7 linked regions of the Homo sapiens genome follow. The protein of the gene in region 4 interacts with the protein of the main gene of each other region in a pairwise test. Each region holds a gene or a part of one and is shown on either strand. Other genes may lie near its edges.

Region 1 (3,500 bases), on a different chromosome or scaffold from region 4:
TCCAGTGTTTGACCCTTATGAGGAAGTGTTGTGCTTTGCTTTTTTAAAACTTTATATTTTGAAAACTTTCACATTTACATAAAAGTTGCAAGAATTGTACAACAAACACCTGCATATCCTTCACATAGATTCTATCATTGTTAATATTTGTTCAAACTTTCTCTCTCTCACAATATTACAGTTACCATTTTGCTGAACTCTTTGAGAGTGAGTGGCAGATATTGTAACCCTTTACACCTGTATACCTACATACCTCAGCATGTATCTTCTAAGGTCAAGGATGTTGTCTAACAACCACAACACAAATACCAAACTCACAGAATTTAACACTGATAAAATATTATTAACATTTAGTCCACATTCAATTTTAGTCAATTATATTTAGTTTTCTAAGGATGCCCTCAAATCAATCATAAAATACAGACATGATGTGAGTGTCTTAGCCTGTTCAGGCTGCTATAACAAAACGCCATAAACAGAATGGCTTATAAACAATAGGAATTCATTTCTTACAGTTCTGGAGGCTGGGAAGTCCAAGCGCAGGGTGCTGGCAGGTTCAGTGTCTGCTGAGGGCCAGCCTTCTGGCTCATAGATAGTACCTTCTTGCTGTGTCCTCATATGATAGAAAGGGTGAGCTAGTCCTCTGGGGTCTCTTTTACAAGGGCACTAATCTCATTCATGAGGGCTCTGGTCTCATGACCTAATCGCCTCCCAATGGCCTTACCTCCTAATACCATCACCTTGGGGATTAGGTTTCGACATATGCATTTTGGGGTGGGGAGGACAAACATTTAGACCATAGCAGTGAACTTTCATTGCTTTTGGTAAAACTTTTCATTTTATTAATACCTTTTGGAATGTTTCTCTAATGTTAACTTGGTACATGTCAGAAAAACATGAAGGCTGGATCTATACCAGGTAAGTAATACTATTGCCCTGTAGCTGCATTCCCCAGTTTAGTATTGCCTATCTACAATAGCCAAGCAGGGTGAGAGCTCAGTGACCACCAGTCATGAGTTTTAGGGCCTCCTGTCAATCAGACAAGAAGCAAACATTTGGAGGAAAAGGTGAAAACAAAAGCTGCCTCACAGGCTTTGACACAGTCAAACTAGTGACTCACGGCATTTTTACAGCCAATCTCTTTCTCCACTAGGGAACCCCCTTGGCTGGCTAATGAAGGCTGCAGATCTAGTATCTCCAAAACCTTAAAGTGGAAAGAGATTGGGGTCCATGCTGAGACTCCACATGTCTATGACATGAGCATGATTTATTTCCCAAAATGTTTGTTGTCTCCAGTCACAGCCAAAGTGAATGAAGCAGGTTTAGAACACGATACATTTAGCCAGGTGTGGTGGCTCATGCCTGTAATCCCAGCACTTTTGGAGGCCGAGGCAGGCGAATCACTTGAGGTCAGGAGTTCGAGACCAGCCTGGTCAACATGGCGAAACCTGTCTCTACTAAAATCACAAAAATTAGCCAGGCAAGATGGTGGGCACCTGTAATCCCTGGTACTCGGGAGGCTGAGGCAGGAGAATCTCTTGAACCCAGGAGGCAGAGGTTGCAGTGAGCCAAGACCATGCCATTGCACTCCAGCCTGGGCGACAAGAGCGAAACTCCATCCCAAAAACAAAGAAGCAAACAAAAACCACAATGCATTCATGGCACCTTCATATGTGCCTCTAGACTAACTGGCAGAGAGCATGGTGCCGACTGCCAGCTGCTGTGCCTGACCACTCCTTGGGTTAACATCAGCATACATCCGTGCTAATCCTCTGGCCCCTGGGTCACAGGCCCACCCCTGCTCCCAACATAATAATTTAAAAAAACACCAAATAATTTTTAAAAAGACAGAGGCTGCCAAGAGATTTTCCAGGACACATTAACTTCTGAAAAGATAATAATTTTTTGTGCCTCTATTACTTAAATGTAAAAAAGTCTTCTTTCCCCTAGTCAAAAACAATGCCCCACCCCTAAAAAAAAAAGTCAACTGCAACCACCAGGTGGGTTAGTAATGGAGGACACAATATAGAACAAAAAAAGATTCTGCAGAGATTTCCTGGTGAGATTATCTAGGTGGCACAGGAAACTGCTCTCAGAAGGTTCCCTGGTGTTTTGGAAGGAGGGAGTCCTACACCATAAATATATTAAGGAAAACAACCGGCTGGGCGTGGTGGCTCACGCCTGTAATCCCAGCACTTTGGGAGGCCGAGGCAGGCGGATCACGAGGTCAGGAGATCGAGACCATCCTGGCTAACATGGAGAAACCCTGTCTCTATTAAAAACACAAAAAAATTAGCCAGGCATGGTGGTGGGCACCTATAGTCCCAGGACTGTACTATACTCGGGAGGCTGAGGCAGGAGAATGGTGTCAACCTGGGAGGCGGAGCTTGCAGTGACCCAAGATTGTGCCACTGCACTCCAGCCTGGGCAACAGAGTGAGACTCTGTCTCAAAAAAAAAAAAAAAAAAAAAAAAAAAAGAAAGAAAGAAAGAAAGAAAAACAACCAAAATACAGTTTTAGAAGGTTTGGAGTAGTCTCTAGGTTTCAAAGAGGTCTATATAATTCCTAGGTGCTGCTCTAAGTAGATATGATTTGATTCCTTTTTCTTTTAATCCAGGCCGCAAAAACCATGAGTAAAAAAAAAAAACACAAAAAAACAAAAAAACCCTACACAACTGTTAGATGATTGAACTTCTGGAGTTGCAGAGCTACATTTCATCCCCTGAAAATCAGGGCAGTTTTCGCTGGATCTGGTGTTCTCTGTGGGTACATCTCGATGCCCAGGCCTTATTCCACGGCACCTCAATAGCTGTCAGGTAGAGTTCCACTGCCAACTTTGGACAGCATGAGTATGTCTACGTGTGTGGGGAGACAAAGGCATAGAGAAAGGCCACATGGGAAAAATATGTGCATATCATAGCTGTTCCAGCTTTTGCTTCTTTCCAGCTAGAAAGAGGTTGAACCTGTTAGATGTAAAGATCCCCTTCACCTCACTGTAGGGTCTTTGGTAAATAAAAACATGTGGGTGCAGAGGTGTGTGTGTGTTCAATTCTTACTTTCAATAACTGAAGTTCAATAGAAATAAACTATATGTGAAACTTTACAAGTAAATTTCTTAGTGTGCAATTTTATATTGCACAGAGGTATTCTAATTTTGGATCCTGGGATAAATGAAAAATGACCTCTGTGGACATGAAGAAACATTGTATTATTCAGCTAGTGGCACCAACGTTCGAATTAGTGATCTCTGAACTCCAAGTTACCAAAATGTTAAGATAGTAGGATATTAAACTTCTAAAATTCCACAAGGAATTTAGGAATATACTGTAGGATTCCACTAATTGTCCACATTTCTAATACGAGGCACTCAGTTTGGTTAGTTTTGTTTTGTTCTTAGGCATTTTGGTCTCAAAATCTAGGCAGGTAAACACATTGTTTACAGGACTTGACTTGGTGAAGTATTTTAGAGTTGGAGTCCTTCAAGATCATGTCTCTGTCCT
Region 2 (3,500 bases), on a different chromosome or scaffold from region 4:
ATCATGACACTGCACTCCAGCAAGGGCAACAGAGTGACAACCTGTCTCCGAAAACAGTAATAATAATTAAAACCGTTTACTTAAGGCCGGGCGCGGTGGCTCACACCTGTAATCCCAGCACTTTGGGAAGCCAAGGCGGGTGAATCACAAGGTCAAGAGATCGAGACCATCCTGGCTAACACGGTGAAACCCTGTCTCTACTAAAAAAATACAAAAAAAATTAGCTGGGTGTGGTGGTGGGTGCCTGTAGTACCAGCTACTCAGGAGGCTGAGGCAGGAGAATGGCGTGAACCCGGGAGGCAGAGCTTGCAGTGAGCCGAGATTGCACCACTGCACTCCAGCCTGGGCAACAGAGTGAGACTCCATCTCAAAAACAAATAAATAAATAAATAAATAAATAAATAAAATAAACAATTTACTTAAAAGTAGGCTGGGTGTGGTGGCTCACACCTGTACTCCCAGCACTTTGGGAAGCCGAGGCCGAGACTGGGGTCAGGAGTTTGAGACCAGCCTGGCCAACAGGGTGAAACCCCATCTCTACTAAAAATACAAAAATCAGTAGGGCATGGTGGTGTGCACCTGTAATCCCAGCTACTCAGGGGGCTGAAACAGAAGAATCACTTGAACCCAGAAGGCAGAGGTTGCAGTGAGTTGAGATCACACCACTGCACCCCAGCCTGGGCAACAGAGGGAGACTCCGTTTCAAAAAAACTTACTAAAAAGTCAAAAAAAGCAAATGATGGTATGACCAATATATCCTACTGGCTGTATACCAATACCTACCATTGGAAATTTTTTTTTTCCCCCTTTTTGGTTTTTTGAGACAGGGTCTCTGTTGCCCAGGCTGGAGTGCAGTGGCATGATCACAGGTCATTGCAGCCTTGACCTCCTGGGACCACAGGTGCACGCTGCCTGGCTAATCTGTTACTTTTTGGTACAGATGGGGTCTATGTTTCCCAGGCTGGTTTCAATCAATCCTTGCACCTCAGCCTACCAAAGTGCTGGGACTACAGGTGTGAGCAACCACACCCTGCCAAAAGTATCTTTTAAAAGACAACAAAATGCAAAGTCTCCTATTAATTAGATAGTACAAAATAATTATGCCCCCAGAAAAGGATTCAAATCACAACAGAGAAACCCAGAAAGAAATGTAGAAAGTTTTAGGACAAGGGTTAATTCCTACGCCAATCAAAAAGAATGCTTATCTATAGAAGTTTCTCCATTATATTTAAAAACTATATTAATAAGACTATATTCTAAGCAACCTACAGCAATGCAATTTTATAATTTAACGTATTTATTAAACAAGGCAATTGTACAAATGGAAACATTTCCTAGTGTCTACTGGCACTCGAAATCACTGTTACTAATGGATTATAAACCATCTTCCTCTAATGATGTATCTTTACTGTAAAGTTTCTGGAAAACATCTATAAATAAGTTATAGTGGTCACCTACCATAATTGGTACATTTTGACGGCAAGAATTAGGTAACCTACGATGTCAGTTTAATGATTCTTTTTCATAATGTTAAAAAATGGATGACACCACTAGCTAAATTCTGCAGTGGTCCCTCAGCACATACGGGGGACTGATTCCAGGAACCCATACCAAAATCCATGAATGCTCAACTCTCTTAAATAGCATAGTGTTTGCACATAACCTACGAACATTCTCTCATACACTGGTGTGTTGTTTTTTTTTTTTATTGGGTTTTTTGGGAGTATCTTCAATCCTCAGCTAGCTGAAACTGTGAATGCAGGACCCACAGTAGAGAGAGCCCACTGTATTAGCTTTCTGTAGTTATGATACCTCATTGCTTACTGGATCATTCTGCATTTTCACTTACTGCTACTTTATTGCTACTTGGCAAAAATATTCTACTCTTTTATAGGAGATTAAAGGATTTTGGGACAGGCAAGGTGGCTCATGCCAGTAATCCTTGCACTTTGGGAAGCCGAGGTAGGAGGACTGCTTGAGACCATGAGTTCAAGACCAACCTGCCAGGCACAGTGGCTCATGCCTGTCATCCCAGCACTTTGGGAGGCCAAGGCGGGCAGATTACTTGAGGTCTGGAGTTCAAGACCGGCCTGGCCAACATAACCCCATCTCTACCAAATATACAAAAATTAGTCAGGTGTGGTGGTACGCGCCTATTATCCCAGCTACTCGGGTGGCTGAGGCAGGAGAATTGCCTGAGCCCAGGAGGCAGAGATTACAGTGAGCCAAGATCATGCCCACACACTCCAGCGTGGGTGACAGAGACTTTGTCTCAAAAAACAAATCATAAAAACAAACTAAAGGATTTCTAAGGTACCTCTTTCTAGAGCTCTAAAATGCCCCTCCCCTCAAATTGAACTGCTGAAACTAAAATTTTGACAACTCAAAGGTTACCAGTAAATCTGAATTCCCTCTAAAACACAAAGCACTCTTTTATGAAGAGAAAAATCAGACATGATTTGAAAATATCTAAATTCTCAAATTCTCTTTGTAAAGGCTTATATTCTTTCAAGTAACATAATTTTGTACTGTTTAACTTCCATCATACTCAATTATGCAAACCAGTGGGGAATATTCACACAACATAGAAAAGGAAGACTTGGCCGGGTGCAGTGGCACACGTCTGCAATCCCAGCACTTTGCGGGGCTGAGGCAGGCATATCTTCTGAGGTCAAGAGTTCATGACCAGCCTGGCCAACATGGTGAAACCCTGTCTCTACTAAAAATACAAAATTTAGCCAGGTGTGGTGATAAATGCCTGTAATCCCAGCTACCGGAGAGGCTGAGGCAGGAGAATCGCTTGAACCTGGGAGGCGGAGGTTGCAGTGAGCCAAGATCGCACCATGGCACTCCTGCTGTCTAGGTGACAGAGTGAGATTCTATCTCCCAAAAAAAAAAAAAAAAAAAAAAAGAAAAGGAAGACTTATGAGTTTTATTTTTCTCTTTAAGGCTTGCTTAAAGTGATAAACCTCATGGTAAAGGAAGGGGTAAAACTCAGGAGGGAGGGAAAAAAAAATGAGTCTGAAGATTTTAAGTTTGTCTGGAATTACCCACAGGATACGTAAGCCAGATAAAGCAAATTTAACAAACATGGCATAGTGAGCTATCTTGTACAAAAGTTCTCCCCAGTCGTGTTGCTTGATACATTCTATGGGTTTAAATTAGCCCCCAACTCTTCAACTATAAAATGCAGAAACCACTTCTGTCACAGAACTTAATAAAACTAGTTTAAAGGACTTACATAAACTATAATTTAAAATATTAAAATTTCTTTCTAGCCAGGCGTGGTGGCTCACGTCTAAAATCCCAGGACTTTGGGAGGCCGAAGCGAGTGGATCACCGGAGGTCAGGAGTTCGAGACCAGCCTGGCCAACATGGCGAAACCCCATCTCTACTAAAAATATAAAAATTAGCCTGAGCGTGGTGGCAGGCGCCTATAATCCTAGCTACTCGGGAGGCTGAGGCAGGAGAATCACTTGAACCTGAGGGGTGGAGGTTGC
Region 3 (3,500 bases), on a different chromosome or scaffold from region 4:
CTTCACTGTGAAAAGCATCAGTGTCCTTAAAAAAAGAATTTCAAAAGGCTAGGGTACAGTGGCACTTTGGGAGGCCAACGCAGGAGGATCACTTGAGTCCAGAAGTTCAAAACCAGCCTGGGCAACAAAATGAGACCCTACCTCCAAAAAAATAAAAAAAGCATCAGTGTCCCAAGCTGAGTATCAGTTCAGACAATGCCCAATGGCAGTGACTGCCTTTGCCTAAGATACAGGACAGTATTTTCCCAAAGTGGATTCTGCAGAATGTTCGTAGCTATCATCTCAAAAAAAAAAAACAATGTGGGTCAAATACATGTTTGGAATACATTGTATGTGACAAAGAATAAGTTTTAAAAAATAAGATGAAATTCAGTTCTGACCTTACTGATTCCCAATTCGCAGATATATTTCCACACTTCATGTGATGAGGCAAATGAACTATTTCTTTGTATCATTGGGTTCTGTTTGCTTTCTCGTGCTGTTTCTGCCTATAAGGATTGAAACATAAGAAATGTAAATAAGAATATTGGTGTGTTTTCTGAATACACTTTATACTGAGTCAAACCAACAACAGAACATATTTAGTTAAGTAAAAATTCCCAATTTCAGGTTTTTAATTCCTATAAAATATGATAAATAGATTAAAATCCTTTGTGAAAAACTTTTTACAAGAGGGTTTGCAGTGATGTTTCCTCAATCATACCTCACCTTGGACTGTAGGAATTTAAAACACTGTTGGTTAAGCACCTCTACAAATTCAGATTCAAAATCCTGGTCACTGTACCAGGCTCCACCAGTCACAGACCGGTCTGGCTGCAGGTTATAGAGCATATACACCTTCTTTTTTGAGGCCTAGGAAAGAACATGCACAGTTCATGTGTTTATAAGATAACAATTTCCAAAAACAAAAACACCTATATTTTGGAACAGTTTAAGATGTACAAAATTATTGCAAAGATAGTACACAGAGCTCCTATATACATCATGCTGTTTCCCCTATTTTTAACATCTTGGATTAGTGTGGTACACTTGTCACAATTAATGAACTAATATTGATAAATCATTACTAACTAAATGCCATACTTTATTCAGATTTCATTAGTCCTAATGTTCCTTTTCTGCTCCAGGATTCCATCCAGGACATCATACTACATTTAGTCATCTCTCTCAGGCTTCTTTTAGTTGTGACAGTTTCTCAAACACCGTATTTCTATCACTATGGACTCATGAGTATTTATTTTATACTTTGATTTACATTCAGATACTTCATTGTTATTCCCACACTGGAAGCTTTGGAATGCTTTGGGCATTGGAAGCTTTTCACTTGGTTCCTGTATCCCTTTGCTATGCTCCCATCGTGTGTGTGTGTATTTTAGCACTTTTTTTTTTCTTTTGGAGACAGGGTCTTGCACTGTCGCCCAGGCTGGCGTGCACTGGTGCAATCTTGGTTCACTGCAACCTCTGCCTCTTGGGTTCAAGTGATTCTCCTGCCTCAGCCTCCCGAGTAGCTGGGGCTACAGGCATGTGCCACCATGCCCAGCTAATTTTTGTATTTTTAGCAGAGACGGGGGTGTCACCATGTTGGCCAGGATGGTCTCGATCTCTTGACCTCGTGATCCTCCCGCCTCAGCCTCCCAAAGTGCTGGGATTACAGGCATGAGCCCCCGTGTCCAGCTATTGTAGCACTTTCTTACTTTCTAGCACTACAAGATGTCAAGAGCATTTTCTTTTCTTTTTTTTTTTGAAACGGAGTTTCGCTCTTGTTGCCAGGCTGGAGTGCAATGGCACACGATCTCAGCTTACTGCAACCTCCACCTCCCAGGTTCAAGCGATTCTCCTGTCTCAGCCTCCCGAGTAGCTGGGATTACAGGCGCCCGTCACTATGCCCAGCTAATTTTTTTGTATTTTCAGTAGAGATGGGGTTTCACCATGTTGGCCAAGCTGGTCTCTAATTCCTGACCTCAGGTGATCCACCCTCCTTGGCCTCCCAAAGTGCTGGGATTACAGGCATGAACCACCCTGCCCAGCCGTCAGGAGCATTTTCTACATGTTCATTTTATTGCATGATAGAAACCACGACTTGGGCACTAGATGTGTTCATTGCCATCGGGATGTCATCACTTCTAGGCCTTCTCAGTTGGCAGCACGAGATTTATGTGCGCATATTAACCCTTGTATATATACATAGCTATACTCAATATTTCTAAATATAACCATCTATATTATTTATATTAAATTACACAAGAGTCCATACTGATGTTTTCAAGTCTAATCCATTACTACATGGATCATTCTAACTTTCCTTGTTTGTCTGTAACTACTCACCCCAACACTGAGGAACCCAAATTTCACTGGGTTGTAAACATGAAGAATTTGGGCCAGGCATGGTGGCTTATGCCTGTAATCCCAGCACTTTGGGAGGCTGAGGTGGGCAGATCTTTAAGTCTAGGAGTTCAAGACAGGCCTGGGTAACATAGTAAAACCCTGTCTCTACAAAAATACAAAAATTAGCTGAGCATGGTGGCACGTGCCTATAGTCCCAGCTACTTGGAAGGCTGTGGTGGGAGGATGGCTTGAGCCCAGGAGGTTGATGCTGCAGTGAGCTGTGATTGTGCCACTGCACTCCAGTCTGGGTGACAGAGCCAGACCATGTCTCAAAAAAAAAAAAAAAGAAAAAAATTTGGCTAGACTTTGTCCCTTTTTCCTAGGAAATAACTTCTACATCTTTGGAATTTCCCAATAGGCCTTGTTATTCATGGTGAATCCCTTAGATCACACCTGGGTTTATGCTAACAAGGTGACTCCTGATAGGACTCTAAATAGTTTCAGGATAGGAGTTGTCCATGCTGGAAAGACCAACCGCATGATTAGAGGGTTGGGGCTTTGGGCCACATGACATCAGTCCAATCTCTTGGGAGAAGAGAGGAGCTGGAGATTGAATTCACTCACATGACCAAGGATTCAATCAATCATGCCTGTATAATGAAACCCTAATAAAAACTTTGGACAGCAAAGCTTGGGTGGGCTTCCAAATTTGGTTAATGCTTCTGTCATACAAAATAATTTCACCACCCTAGAAATATTTCTCATGCTTCACCTATTCAACTTTCCCTACCATCCCTGCCCTCACCCCGATCTTTTTAGTCTGTCTAGTTTTGCCTTTTCCAGTATGTCATATAGTTGTAATCATACAGTATGTAGCCTTTTCGGACTGGCTTCTTTTACTTAGCAATATGCATTTAAGATTTACTCATATCTTTTCATGATAGCTTATTTCTTTTTATAACTGAATACTATTCTGGTTTGTCTATCCATTCACCTATTGAAGGATACCTTGGTTGCTTCCAGTTTTTGATTATGAATAAAGCTGCTGATTACGAATAAAGCTGCTATAAATATTCATGTAGTTATGTGGACATGAGTTTTCAAATCAGTTGGGTAAATACTTAAGAGCTTGACCTTTGGACAATGTGGTAAGACTCTGTTTAGTTTTGTAAAAA
Region 4 (3,500 bases):
TCCTGAGTAGCTGTGATTACAGGTGTGCCCCACCACACCCGGCTAATTTTCGTATTTTTAATAGAGGCAGGGTTTCACCATGTTGGCCAGACTGGTCTCAAACTCCTGACACCTCAAGTGATCCACCTGCCTTGGCCTCCCAAAGTGCAGGGATTACAGGTGTGAGCCACCGCACCCAGCTTTTTTTTTTTTTTTTTTTAAGACTGAGTCTCCTTCTGTCGCCCAGGCTGGAGTGCAATGGCTCGATCTCTGCTCACTGCAACCTCTGTCTCCTGGGTTCAAGCGATTCTCGTGCCTCAGCCTCCCAAGTAGCTGGGATTACAGGCACGCACCACCAAGCCTGGCTAATTTTTTGTAGTTTTAGCAGAGACAGGGTTTCGCCCTGTTGGCCAGGCTGGTCTTGAACTCCTGACCTCAAGTGATCCGCCTGCCTCGGCCTCCCAAAGTGCTGGGATTACAGCCATGAGCCACCATGCCCAGTCGCTTTTTTTTTTTTTTTTTTTTTTTGAGATGTAGTTTTACTCTTGTTACCCAGACTGGAGTGCAATGGCGCAATCTTGGCTCACTGCAACCTCTGCCTCCCGGGTTCAAGAGATTCTCCTGAGTAGATGGGATTACAAGCATGCGCCACCACACCCGGCTAATTTTGTATTTTTAGTAGAGAGGGGGTTTCTCCATGTTGGTCAGGCTGGTCTCAAACTCCTGACCTCAGGTGATCCGCCGACCTCAGCCTCCCAAAGTGCTAGGATTACAGGCGTGAGCCACCGCACCAGCAGCTTTTAAAAAATTTTACCCCCTAGTAATGAAATCTCTCAACAGCTAACATAAGAAACAAAGCATACGCTACCCTTCAAAACTCCACTTATTCCTACACTTCAGCACGTATTATGAATATTTGTATCTTAAATACTTCCACAGTAGACAGTTCAGACATACACACACACAAACCATAACACAAATAGTTTTACACATACATTTAAAACTAAATAAATCACCTCATGTGATTTAAATGAGAAAAATGAACTATTGACTTTTTTTCTTTTTCTCAAATGCTACCACAAGAATTCTCGCAAGCTATCAGCCCCAAGTCTATCTTTTTGAGTATTTTGTGATAGCTGATAGGTAGGAAAGTCATCCTGGATGACATGTTAGTTCCCATTCATGTCACCCTTAGGTAATAGATATGATCCTTAAAGGCCTTAGTTCCCCTTTAAATATTTCATCTTGGATTTGTTCCACATTGATTTGTCCAAACCAATTGTGAGGTATTTACCTATCAACAGAAGAGCTGCATCCATCACTGCTGCACCGTTCAGCATAGTAGCCATCAAAATATCGTGGCCAGGACAGTCAACAAAGGAAACATGTCTAATGATTGAGAAATAACAATCAGCCTTAACATAAATCACTACTTACACATGCTAGTTTTAGATTTTTTAAAGTTAAATCAACTTAGGAAATAATCTTATTGCTATAAAATGGTTACAGGGCTTGTCGTTTCTAGAACTTGGAAATAAGTTCACCAGCTGATGAAAACCACTGCAGATTACAAAGCAAATTAAATTAGTTATGTGCAGAATGGAAGATAAACTCCAAAATCCAATGAAAATGAATATGGTATAGAATAATGGTGGAGAGTATATACTGAGAATGTCATTGATTTGAAAGCTAAAACTTATAATGACTTATAAAAACCACGTTAACAGAATGAGAATTTGAAAAAACAATTTTCTGGCTGGGCGCAATGGCTCACACCTGTAATCCCAGCACTTTGGGAGGCCAAGGCAGGTGGATCACCTGAGGTCAGGAGTTTGAGACCAGCCTGACCAACGTGGTGAAACCCGGTCTCTAATAAAAATACAAAATTAGCCACATGTAGCTGGTGCATGCCTGTAATCCCAGCTACTTGGGAGGCTGAGGCAGGAGAATCGCTTGAACCCAGGAGGTGGAGGTTGCAATGCGCCAAGATAGCACCATGGCATTCCAGCCTGGGCAACAAGAGTGAAACTCCGTCTCAAAAAAAAAAGAGAAAAAAAAAAACAATTTTCCAAAAATACCTCTAACACCTTGAAAAACTAGAATTGCCCATTTGAAGCAGAGATGGCAGCACTTTTAACAAAACTATGGTATTCATTCAGAGTCACAATTGTTTTTTTAATCGCATGCTCACATTGTCATGATCTAAAACAGAGGTCAGCCCTTAGGCCAAATCTGGCCCACCACCATACCTATTTACACACGTATTGTCTACGTTTGCTTCTGTAATAGAAGAACAGAATCAACAGAAACTCTATGGCTTGCAAAGCTGAAAATATTTACTACCTAGCCCTTTGTGGAAAAAGTTTGCTGATCCCCTATTAAAGGCCAGGACTACAGTGAGACAAGTGCAAAATTTAAGAGACTGCCAAAAAACTCAGTAATCAAGGAAAATGGCCGGGCATGGAGGCTCATGCCTGTAATCCCAGCACTTTGGGAGGCTGAGGCGGGCAGATCACTTGAGGCCAGGAGTTCGAGACCAGCCTATACAACATGGCAAAAGCCCACCTCTACTAAAAATATAAAAACTAGGCCGGGCACAGTGGCTCACGCCTGTAATCCCAGCACTTTGGGAGGCCGAGGCGGACGGATCACAAGGTCAAGAGATCGAGACCATCCTGGCCAACATGGTAAAACCCCGTCTCTACCACTGCACTCCAGTCTGGCGACACAGAAAGACTCCGTCTCAAAAATAAATAAATAAATAAATAAAAATAAAAACTAGCTGGGCATGGGGGCTCACGCCTGTAATCCCAGCTACTCGGGAGGCTGAGGCAGGAGAATTGCTTGAACCCAGAAGTGGAAGCTGCAGTGAGCCAAGATCGCACCACTGCACTCCAACCTGGGCAACAGAGACTGTCTCAAAAAAAAAAAAAAAAAAAAGAAAGAAAAAAAAATATATGCATTCAGTATTTTTAAAAAGTCGAAATTAATGCAAAAAATCAATCATAAACAAAATACAATGCCATGCTGAGCCAAAGCAAAAGGGGAAAAAAATTTAGTAATAGAGTCTGCCCTTATTTAAAATTCTGATTTATCACATTTTTTGCATTAATTTAAAAAAAACACTGCATTAAAATATTTATCCTAATTACTGAGTTTTCTGGCATACCTGCCACCGCCAGGCCCACTTACATTTTGGGCTTGAGGTGAAGGCCTCACTTGTCCCTCCCTGGTCCCAGCCCTGCCCCAATCTAAACATTCCTTGTAGGGCATCTCCAATCCCCATAAACATCACTAGACAGGTGTCAGTATCCTGATAAAAAAACAGGTATGCAATCATATTCAGAAAACAGATGGGGAACAAGTTCAAGTGTTTTAGAGAAGTAATTAGAAATGGCTCTGTTTCTCTCCTATTTAACATACAGAAACAGCGCTGTTTAAAAGAAATTCAGGAAGCCTAGAAAAAGAATCCCTTCAATCCAATGAGTTGTTTTTCTGTTTTGTTTAAGTGATACTTTTAG
Region 5 (3,500 bases), on a different chromosome or scaffold from region 4:
TTCTGATGTCAGGCTCTTGGCTGAATGATCTCTGGTAGGATCCCTGACAGCAGTTTGTATGGAAGATGGGCCCTACAAAACGGTCACCTTACTGAGACAACCAAGTCAGATGTTCCCCAATTACCTGTGGACAGGTCAGGCATATTCTGAGTCTAATTTCACTCCACAGGCCTAATACCTTGGAGCCAGAAAGCTTCCAGGTAAAAAGTCTGAAGGGGGCCTCCTCATGTCATTAGATGGACTCCTGCATCTCCAGAAGATTTTCCACACCAGGAAAGATCAAAGCACCAAGGCAATTCTTCCTGGCTTCTTGGGACAACCCTAGGCTTTGGCATGAGTGGTCTGGAAGCCTTTGCTTTAGTTACAATGCCTATACACTCCTGGAACTGTTTTGCAGGGCTTGTCTTCCAGCACAATTCCTCCTCCAAGCCTTACTGTAGCTACAGCCCATCAGTCCTGTCTAGTGACAACCAAGAAACTAAGAACTATGTACTCACGTTCACCTCCCCAGAGTCATTTTCCTTCAGGACAAAGCTCAGGGCCTTGTCACTGGGCCCTGCCAGGAGCCGCAGCCGCAGGGGCTGCTCATCATCCAACAGCTTCCGCAAGTACACTGTGAAGGGGAAGTAATGATCAGAGACAGGGCCAGCTGCTCAGCCCCTGCATGCTCAGGTGCATGCGTATATACCCTCACATAGGGCAGGGTGGGGTGGGAAGCCCACCTTGGCCGTGACGCTCAGCGCGCTCAAAGAGTGCAAACTTGCGGGGGTCATCCACCACCAAGAACTTTCGCAGCAGGGCCTCAATGACTTCACGTGCCCTTGTGCGTGACAGCACATGCAGGTGCTTGACAGCATCCTTGGGCAGGTAAAAGGAAGTGCGGCGCCTGACACTTGTGCCCCGTCCTGGGCCCCGCCGGGCATCCTGCAAGGAGGGTGGCTTCTTGCTGGAGGGCACAGAGACAGGGCGCACCAGCTTCAGCTGAACCTTGATGAAGCCTGTGTAAGAACCGTCCTTGTTCTAAAGAAATAGAGAAACCAAACCTTGATAATAGGTTCCAGGTGAGATGTCAGTCTACTTGGGGCTAGGCTGGGTATGCACAAATTACTGCTTGCGCCCACCCAAGATAACCTCAGTTGTGACCCTCTGAGTATCAGGCACATAGCTGGGTACCTGCTCCTCCCCACGCCCCCTTCCTGAGCAGTCAACTCACCAAGCTCATGAAGAGGTTGCTGTTGATCTGGGCATTGTACTCCTTGATCTTCTGCTCAATCTCAGCTTGAGAAAGGTCAGGTGTCTCCCACTCCACAGGCTCGTCCTGCAAGATGGGCCAGCATGGACACAGGGCCCTTGAGGAACCCAGGGCTTCTCTGAAAAATGGCCTCTGGGGCAGTCTTTGGAAACTGACTGCCTTTGGCCCCCTGTCCCTGATGTACATATACATAGCTGGTGCCCACCCTGAACCCACCACTGCTCCTGGTTTTGCATGCTCTGGGTGGATAAGGGAAAGACAGAATCATTTGGCTTCTCTCTGCTGCCTGCCTAGGGCCTCAGCACTGAATGTAGCCTTAAGGATACCACAGAAGCAGGGGCAACTGAAGGCACATGGCCAGGGGCCAGGAACAGCTGAGGGACTCTGAAGAGGGACTCTCATTTAAAGTAAAATCAGGCTGGGTGTGGTGGCTCACATCTGCAATCCCAGCATTTTGGGAGGCTAAGGTAGGAGGATCACTTGATCCTCAGGAGTTTGAGACCAGCTTGGGCAACATAGCAAGACCTCATCTCTACTAAAAAAAGAAAAAAAAAAATTAGCCAGGTGTGGTGGTGTGCCTGTAGTCCCAACTGTTCAGGAGGCTGAGGTGGGAGGATCGTTTGAGCCCGGGAGATTGCAGCTACAGTAAGCTATTATCGTGTCACTGCACTCCAGCCTGGGGAACTGAGTGAGACCCTGCTTCAAAACACAAAAAACAAAAACAGGCTGGGCACGTTGGCTCACGCCTGTAATTCTAGCACTTTGGGAGGCCGAGGCGGGTGGATCACCTGAGGTCAGGAGTTTGAGACCAGCCTGACCAACATGGAGAAACCCCGTCTCTACTAAAAATACAAAATTAGCCAGGCGTGGTGGCACATGCCTGTAATCCCAGCTACTTAGGAGGCTGAGGCAGGAGAATTGCTCAAACTCGGGAGGTGGAGGTTGCAGTGAACTGAGATCGTGCCATCGCACTCCAGCCTGGGCAACAAGAGCGAAACTCGGTCTCAAAAAAAAAAAAAATCAGTAAAATCACACCTCAATTGCACATTCTGATCACAGCACCCTAGTTGAGTTGGAGTGAGGGTTTGTCCTGGAGAAGGCAGCCCATTTTTCTCCTCTGCCCCGGCACGGGGCCATGACCCACTGCAGGGTGAGAGGAGTGGAGAGTGGTGCACATCAGTAGTCCAGCCACCAGTGGACAGAGTAGTACTTGGAGCCAGTTCTCCATGTCTCACACATAGTGAGAAAAATCACTGTGACATGATGTTTAACCTTGACCCAAGCTGCATAAAAGGCAGCTTTAGGCCAGGCTCCAATCTGCCAGAGGTACACAGGCAGCTTCCTGGTGGGTTTCTGCACCTGCCTGTGCTGTCTGGAGATTTGGCCCAAAGATTTTTTTTTTTTTTGAGACGAAGCCTCACTCTGTCGCCCAGGCTGTAGTGCAGTGGCTGGATCTTGGCTCACTGCAAGTTCTGCCTCCTGGGTTCAAGCGATTCTCCTGCCTCAGACTCCCGAGTAGCTGGGACTACAGGCGCGTGCCACAACAACACCCGGCTAATTTTTGTATTTTTAGTAGAGATGGGATTTCACCACATTGGCCAGGTTGGTCTTGAACTCCTGACCTCAAGTGATCCGCCTGCCTTCACCTCCCAAAGTGCTGGGATTACAGGCGTGAACCATCGTACCCGACCCAGAGATTTTTAACTCGACCACTCACTCCCCACCTCATCTAGGGACTGGATTCTTGCCGGAAGGGTGGAGTGTGGGACAGGGCAGCCAGGGCTCTGAACCGACTTTCTTCTCCCAGACTCCCTTGGCCCCACTGCATCAGCCTTACTTCCTGTTGACGTCAGATAGGCCCTAGTTAGAATGCGAGTGTCACAGACACAGCTAAGCTCAGCGCTGACCAATACTTTGTCCCAGAAGAATTCCCACAAGGTTTCCTGTAGAATGATCTTGTGCCTAGCCCAGGAGAGCCAGGGTTCTCCCTGACTCCGCCCTGGAGTCCCCTTAAGCACTTAAACCATCTGATGGGGACAAATGGAGAGGACAGATGAGGGAGCAGGGTGGAGCGTTTTAGCAGAATGCTCCTTACCCAGAACCCGCTGCTATTCTGCAGCCAGCAAGGATGTGGGGCTAAGAACTAAGGCCAGGGCCTTACAGGAAAAAGGTAAAGGGGGAGGGGTGGGAATTTAAGCTCATTTTCTTCCCCAAGTATCCAAAGGTCTCCTGGATGGAGAAGAGCACT
Region 6 (3,500 bases), on a different chromosome or scaffold from region 4:
GAGGGAGAGGGCCACGAGGTGGGGAGTCTCTGGGCACCCCTCTCTCTGCCTTTCCCCCTCTTCAGAAGGACTCACTATCACAGACATACGGCTTGTCTCGGTCCTCCAGGGAAGCGGTGTCCTGGCGTTTCCGGAGACCCCCGATGCCATATGCCTGTGGGGAGAGTCAGGAGTGAGGGGCCAAGAAAGTGAGAAAACAGGCCAGGCGTGGTGGCTCACACCTGTAATCCCAGCACTTTGGGAGGCCGAGGCAGGCGGATCACGAGGTCAAGAGATCGAGACCACCTTGGCCAACATGGTGAAGCCCCGTCTCTACTAAAAATAGAAAAATTAGCTGGGCATGGTGGCGCGTGCCTGTAGTCCCAGCTACTCGGGAGGCTGAGGCAGGAGAATCGCTTGAACCCGGGAGGCGGAGGTTGCAGTGAGCAGATATTGCGCCACTGCACTCTAGCCTGTGACAGAGCGAGACTCCGTCTCAAAAAAAAGAAAAAAAAGAAAAAAGAAAGTGAGAAAACAGTGTCTTTTGCAAATTCAAATTGCAGCTGTACAAATGTCCTAGCTGTGGGGCCTTGAACCTCTCCAAGGTTCAGCTTCTTCCTCTGTGGCATGGGGATGAAGGTAGCTCTAACCCACTGCATAATCTCTGCTTTGCAAATGGCTTAATACAGATGAGCCTCAGTTTCCTCATCTGTAAAATGGGTATAAAATCCCCCACCCCTGCAGGCCGCTCTGGGGATTCAATGAGGTCAGACTGAGGTCAGACTGTGGCAGGGGCGGACCACTGCACCTGCTCCATGAATGAGACCTGTCATTGAGGGGAGCGGGGAAGAGGAGAAGCTTGGGGTGATACCTTTCCTTTGGCCCTGTTCTTCCTCCTGGGAATGTCATCCTCCAAGTCTTCCACCTCGAGGTCATGCGGAAACTCCAGCAACTGCTGTTTCTGGGCAATAGAGAAAGGAGACGGGTCAAGAAAGTGGGGGCCACTGACCTGCTTTTGAGGGGCTCTGGGCAAAGGTGGAGATTGGGGGTGAGAGTATAAGTCAGGAGTTCTTCCAAATAGAGATGAAGTCTGGGAGGATGGTGACTGGGATGCCCAACAGCCAGAAGAAACCGGGGGGGTTTCAGAGCAGGAACGTGAGGGCCCGGGCTGGTGGCAGGCAGGGGTGAGACGAAGCCATGCAGCGGGGGTCCCCCAGAGGTGGGCCCACCTGACAGTCCATAATGGTCTCCTCCTCCTTCAGCTCAATCTTCTTCTCCCCCGTCTCTGCACACAGTAGAGCCTCGAGGACCGGCCCTTCCGGGAGGCCACCCTCCTTCTTCAGGGGTGCTTCACAGTCTGGGGACAGGGCCATGGGGGGGTCAGATGGGGAAGTTGACCCCGGAGGACTCCTCAAACTATGCAGGTGGGGGGACCATGCTCTTTGCAGGAGGGAAGAGGCTGCAGAGGCAAGGATTTAACCACATGCCCTAGGAGGGAGGCCCAGACTCTGGGGAGACCCAGTCACGCCCTCAGATGCCCTGGGATGCACAGCAGGAGACACGGTCAGAACTTTGGATACACCAGAAAGCCTCAGAAAAAGACACAGTTAGGCCATCAGGCACACCCAGACCTACTCAGGGAAGACACAGCGACTCTCAAACATACCCAGACAAATATGGACAGATCCAGACACTCGCAGAGGAGACACAGGGACACCCGCAGGGGACATCCAGACAGATCGTCTGAGACAGATGCGGGAAGGAAGAGGCCCAGCCATGCTGTCTTTTTTCTTTTTTTTTTGAGACAGGGTCTCGCTCTGTCACCCAGGTTGGAGTGCAGTGGCGCAATCTCAGCTCACTGCGACTCCCAGGCTCAAGTGATCCTCCCACCTCAGCCTCCTGAGTAGCTGGGACTACAGGCAGAGTAGCTGGCATGCTACCACACTGGGCTAATTTTTGTATTTTTGGTAGAGATGGGGTTTCATCGTGTTAATCAGGCTGGTCTCAAACTCCTGAGTTCAAGCGATCCTCTGCCTCGGCCTTCCAAAGTGCTGGAATTACAGGCATAAGCCACACTCTCAGATACAGCCTAGAGACTCAAAGAGGTATAGCCAGATCCTTGGAGACACCCAGACACAGGGAGGAGACATAGCTGGACCCATGGGTACACTCAGAAATGCTCAGAGACAATTAGCTGGCCAGGCGCGTTGGCTCACACCTGTAATCCCAACACTTTAGGAGGCTGAGGCGGGTGGATCACTTGAGGTCAGGAGTTTGAGACCAGCCTGGCCAACATGGTAAAACCTCATCTCTACTTAAAAAAAAAAAAATACAAAAATTAGCCGGGTGTAGGGGCACATGCCTGTAATCCCAGCTACTCAGGAGGTTGAGGCAGAGAATCACTTGAACCCGGGATGCGGAGGTTGCAGTGAGCCGAGATCGTGCCACTGCACTCCAAACTGGGTGAAAAAAAAAAAGAAAGGAAGAAGGAAGGAAGGAGGGAAAGAAAAGAAAAAGAAAGAGAGAGAAAGAAAGAAAGAAGGAAGGAAAGAAAGAAAGAAAGGAAGGAAGGAAAGAAAAGAAAAAGAGAGAGAGAGAAAGAAAGAGAAAGAAAGAAAGAAAGAGAAAGAAAGAAAGAGGCCGGGTGCGGTGGCTCACGCCTGTAATCCCAGCACTTTGGGAGGCCGAGGCGGGCAGATCATGAGGTCAGGAGATCGAGACCATCCTGGCTAACACGGTGAAACCCCGTCTCTACTAAAAATACAAAAAATTAGCTGGGCGTAGTGGCAGGCGCCTGTAGTCCCAGCTACTCGGGAGGCTGAGGCAGGAGAATGGCGTGAACCCAGGAGGCGGAGCTTGCAGTGAGATCGCGCCACTGCACTCCAGCCTGGGCGACAGAGCAAGACTCCGTCTCAAAAAAAAAAAAGAAAAAGAAAAAGAAAAAAGAAAAAAAGAAAGAAACAATTAGCCCTCCAGATACACCTAGACCCTGGGGAAGACACAGCCAGATGAGATGCTTGGACACATAGCGGGGAGATACCGACATACTCAGGGAGAATCACTCAGCTAGATACACACAAACACACACAGGAGACAGACAGGAAGAGACACAGCCAGGTGGGCACTGCCACGCTCCTGGGTACACACAGACCCTCGGACTCAGGAAGAGAAACTGACCCCGAGGATCCCGATATTCCTAAACACATTCAAGGGTAAGTCCAGATCCTCTGATGGACTGGCACACACGTGCAGAAATACACCTGATACGCCAGACACCATCAGGAAGATTCTCCCAGACACTCCGAGGCACCCACACACCCACAGAAAGAGACGGCCGCACCGCCTAACACACCCAGACACACTCGGGAGGAGCCGGACACCCTGACAGACCAGACATACACAAGACACAAGCCTTCTAAGACACTTGGAGACACCTGGGAAGATACACCTAAGAGAGGAAAGAGCTCCAACCAGACACTGAGACATCCAGACGCCCTTGGGGAGATACAGAGGCAGACACC
Region 7 (3,500 bases), on a different chromosome or scaffold from region 4:
CTTGGAGCACACTTTTCTTAGAAACAGTATTGCACATGGTGGTCAGATTCTGGGACTAGCCTGTAAGAAGCCTGGTTAACACAGTTTATGGAACCATTCACCATTTTAAACATTCGGGAAAATTCTGTTTCTGAAACCTAAAACCGGGACTTTTCTTGTATTAGAGCAGTGACTTTTGCTTTCATCCACCTCTGAGTAGCATCTTGGCCAGATGTAGGAGAAGCATCAACTTGGAGTGGTGAAGGTGGTGGGGCTGTGGTGAGGAAGGGGACAAAGGGAAGATCAGGTGGCTGCAGGGAGAACCGGGATGCTGTGTGAAGGAGGAGGCAATGCCAGCAGGAGATCCAGCAACACTTTCACTTCCTTTAGGCTTCTTCCCTTTCTACTTCTGGCCGACGTAAGACCCAGGGATGCTGCTGTGCTCAAGGCCACCTCACTCCTTCAGTGGACACAGGGTTAGCTTGGCTGCCTGCTTCCCATTTCCTTACCACCAGCCTTCACATCCGCCCGGGCCTTTCAGCTTGGCTCACTGCAGATTGCAACCGCTTACTCAGCCTTTCACCCTGTAGCAATCATAGGTAACAGGAAGGAAGCACATGCTAGTTAAAATTGTAAGAACTTAGCTTTTCTATTCTCATCCATGGTATGTTCCCACTTTACTTGAGCTTGTGACAAAAGTCGCCCATGTGTTAATATGCCATCTTGCTGGAGAGGCATCTGACCTTGCCAGGCTTTGGCTCCAACTTGCTTCCAGCAAAGCTCCTTAGGACTTCTAATCTTATTTGGTAAAACAATAAAACAAAACAGAACATAACCTTGTATCCCATCTATCCCAGATGGAGAAGTTCTTGAAAATTGTCCAGCCCACTTCTGCATTTCTACTTTCAATATACTTTCCGAGTATATTGTCTCATATATTTTGAAGGAGAGAGTAAAGTCTGTATGTCCTAAATAGTGGTTCCCACGAACCAGTTAAAAAAATTTGGAGGACTGACATGTGTTTGCCAACATTTAAATTTTTCCAAGTAAGAGTATTATAAGTAGAGAAAGTGAGGAAAATCGAGAGAGAGAAAGAGAGACAGAGAGACAAGAAAATCAACAACCAGCCACCTATTGCCATGATTTCTTAAAAAGGAAAGTTTTATGTTAAAAAAAAATTAGTGGGGGACATAACCTTAGAATGAAGGGCAGATCTTCACATACAGAAAATGTGTGCAAAAACTCATGACTTGTTATTTATTTTTCCCATTTCTCCAAGGATGAGTGAAAACTTTATCACACCAGTCAACAGAGTTGTGTTTGAGAGCCTCTGATTGGAACCGCCCTGCAGCCCCTTCCCACCTTTCAGCCACTGCTTCACGTGAGAAACGAACCTTAGTAAAATTATCAAAAGAGCAAACGTAGATAAACTCATAAGGGAAAACTCTAGTTAGGGAAGGATTTTTTAAAAAAATCCCAGTGGTGTCCAACACATGGTTTTTCTCTGAGCTGTTCACGTTCCCTGGCACACCATTGTAGCAGCTGCCACCCACCGCACACAAACTGACAGCACTGCTGCTTCTTGCTTTCTTGGATAATGGGTCAATTAAGGCAAAACTATAATTTTTTTAAAAGAGCTTAACTAGAAAATCGGACGGAAAAAAGCAAAATCAAAAAGAAAACTCCAGAGCACAAAATTAGTTTTTAGAGTACCAATTTCTTACCCCACATCATCAGCTGCATGTTGTCATGACCGGCTCTGCTTCCTGGGCTGCCAGGATCCTGGTTTCTTTCCTTAATTTGGTCACCTGTTGTCTGCTTGAGACATTATCAGTTGGTAGTTCGAGCTGGTTCCATCTCTGGGTGAAGCCTGTGCATTATATAAGCGCATAACACAGGCTTGTCTCACCCGTGGCCTTGGCTGGAGCCAGCCTTTTGGGAGTTCTCTGTTTATAGGGCAGTTCCCCTCTGGTGGCTATAAGAACTGTGCCCTACTTCCTGTTTCAGAGGTCTGGTTAGAGGCCCATTCAGTTCCTGTTTCTGGTTTGCAGGATAAAATTGGTTCACACTTTCTTTGTGGAGCAGTGGGAGATGGACAAGCACAAAGTCCGGGAAATGTGCAAGTCTCTCCAGCATGAGGTACCAACCGTGCCTGCTTTCCAAGTACTTCCTCCAAGTGGTCCCTTCAAACACCACTCCAAGCCAGGAAAGTAGAGAACCATAGGAAAATGCATTATTGGCTACTGACTCCAGGGCTGACAGTGTGCTGTGCAATGATGGCCCCTCCCAGGAGGCCATTCGAGGGCCTTTTATCACACGCTCCCCTTTCTGTCACCCATGGAAGCCTCACTGTGGCTGTAGAACATGCCAGCATTTGCCCCGCTCCACCTGGGGCAAGATGAGAGTGGGAAATGTGGTGGAGGTGGGCAGTGTTGCAGGAACCCACAGCTATGTGGTTATCAGAAGAAACTGGGAACCCACAGCTTTGGGAAAAATATATCTTGAAGACAGCCTCATCTTCCTGTAATTTGGATATAGGTAGGTGGGGAAACTGGCTAGATATGAGAAAGATACCCTCATTTTCAGGGAGTAAAATTAAACTTGAAAATTTTATTAGTGGCATAAAAGGGAAATAAAGGAAATCAAGGCAAAATGATAAATTAAAAATCCATTGGTGACTCTGATATATTGGTTTGTGTAGTTGTGGGTTTTTTTTTTTTTTAAGAAGATCTTGCTCTGTCACCCAGGCTGGAGTGCGTTGGCATGATTTCGGCTCCAACTGCAACCTCCGCCTTCTGGGCTCAAGTGATCCTCCTGCTTTGAGCACAGCCAAGCCTGGCCAATTTTTGTATTTTTATGTAGAGATGGGGTTTTACCATGTTGCCCAGGCTGGTCTCAAACTCCTGGACTCAAGCGATCCTCCTGCCTCAGTCTCCCAAAGTGCTGGGATTACAGGCGTGGGCCACTGCGCCTAGCCTAGTTGTTTTAATGTATTAGTTTTTCTCTTTGGCTAAAGGTATTGACTAGAGACACTAATCGAAATATGTGCCAGGTTAGTGGAAAAGCAGGAAGGATATGAGACAAAGCTGATTTTCAAAATCTTGTCTAAGTGTTCAAAAAATGTAAATAATTGATAACTTACATTTCATATGAATTTTATTTTGTAGTGTTTTTGGTTTTCCAAAGGAAAACAGAAATAACTGAAACTACATTGTGATAATTTTCTTAGGGGAGACAGGAGAGAGAATTTTAAATATTAAGGGCATTTCCTATTTAATAAAATCATAGTAGAGCAGATCTGTATAACTTAAATGCCACAGAAGTTGCACAGGGTAACAGAAAACATTCCACTATAAGCAGACCTTTTCTGTTACAGTAGTTCATCAACAATGAGGAAAGCAATTGCCTTTGGTATATGATTCATACAGGAAGTAAGTTATATTCCTTTGTACTGGCAATCTCCAAAAATGGTTGAGACCAGTTATACCAGTACTTTCCAATACTTGTAGCCTCTTCTACAC

What was found.
Region 1: the proteins of EIF2S3 (region 4) and SPATS1 interact in binary tests that used the Homo sapiens proteins (3 or more experiments, as listed by UniProt).
Region 2: the proteins of EIF2S3 (region 4) and SYNCRIP interact in binary tests that used the Homo sapiens proteins (3 or more experiments, as listed by UniProt).
Region 3: the proteins of EIF2S3 (region 4) and POLR3F interact in binary tests that used the Homo sapiens proteins (3 or more experiments, as listed by UniProt).
Region 5: the proteins of EIF2S3 (region 4) and RASSF1 interact in binary tests that used the Homo sapiens proteins (3 or more experiments, as listed by UniProt).
Region 6: the proteins of EIF2S3 (region 4) and DPF1 interact in binary tests that used the Homo sapiens proteins (3 or more experiments, as listed by UniProt).
Region 7: the proteins of EIF2S3 (region 4) and MAP3K5 interact in binary tests that used the Homo sapiens proteins (3 or more experiments, as listed by UniProt).

The regions. Positions count from the first base shown.
Region 1 is NC_000006.12:44,377,150-44,380,649, forward strand, and holds the end of SPATS1 (spermatogenesis-associated serine-rich protein 1), read left to right. Parts: 3' UTR 1-3,030; downstream 3,031-3,500.
Region 2 is NC_000006.12:85,632,887-85,636,386, forward strand, and holds part of SYNCRIP (heterogeneous nuclear ribonucleoprotein Q), read right to left. Parts: intron 1-3,500. UniProt on the Homo sapiens protein: Heterogenous nuclear ribonucleoprotein (hnRNP) implicated in mRNA processing mechanisms. Component of the CRD-mediated complex that promotes MYC mRNA stability.
Region 3 is NC_000020.11:18,477,390-18,480,889, reverse strand, and holds part of POLR3F (DNA-directed RNA polymerase III subunit RPC6), read right to left. Parts: intron 853-3,500; coding exon 709-852; intron 489-708; coding exon 381-488; intron 1-380. UniProt on the Homo sapiens protein: DNA-dependent RNA polymerase catalyzes the transcription of DNA into RNA using the four ribonucleoside triphosphates as substrates.
Region 4 is NC_000023.11:24,057,956-24,061,455, reverse strand, and holds part of EIF2S3 (eukaryotic translation initiation factor 2 subunit 3), read right to left. Parts: intron 1,369-3,500; coding exon 1,274-1,368; intron 1-1,273. UniProt on the Homo sapiens protein: Member of the eIF2 complex that functions in the early steps of protein synthesis by forming a ternary complex with GTP and initiator tRNA.
Region 5 is NC_000003.12:50,330,837-50,334,336, forward strand, and holds part of RASSF1 (ras association domain-containing protein 1), read right to left. Parts: intron 1,319-3,500; coding exon 1,214-1,318; intron 1,021-1,213; coding exon 723-1,020; intron 614-722; coding exon 498-613; intron 1-497. UniProt on the Homo sapiens protein: Potential tumor suppressor. Required for death receptor-dependent apoptosis. Mediates activation of STK3/MST2 and STK4/MST1 during Fas-induced apoptosis by preventing their dephosphorylation.
Region 6 is NC_000019.10:38,217,723-38,221,222, forward strand, and holds part of DPF1 (zinc finger protein neuro-d4), read right to left. Parts: intron 1,337-3,500; coding exon 1,209-1,336; intron 941-1,208; coding exon 851-940; intron 155-850; coding exon 76-154; intron 1-75. UniProt on the Homo sapiens protein: May have an important role in developing neurons by participating in regulation of cell survival, possibly as a neurospecific transcription factor. Belongs to the neuron-specific chromatin remodeling complex (nBAF complex).
Region 7 is NC_000006.12:136,782,478-136,785,977, reverse strand, and holds part of MAP3K5 (mitogen-activated protein kinase kinase kinase 5), read left to right. Parts: exon of another isoform or gene 1-563; intron 564-1,703; exon of another isoform or gene 1,704-1,931; intron 1,932-3,500. UniProt on the Homo sapiens protein: Serine/threonine kinase which acts as an essential component of the MAP kinase signal transduction pathway. Plays an important role in the cascades of cellular responses evoked by changes in the environment.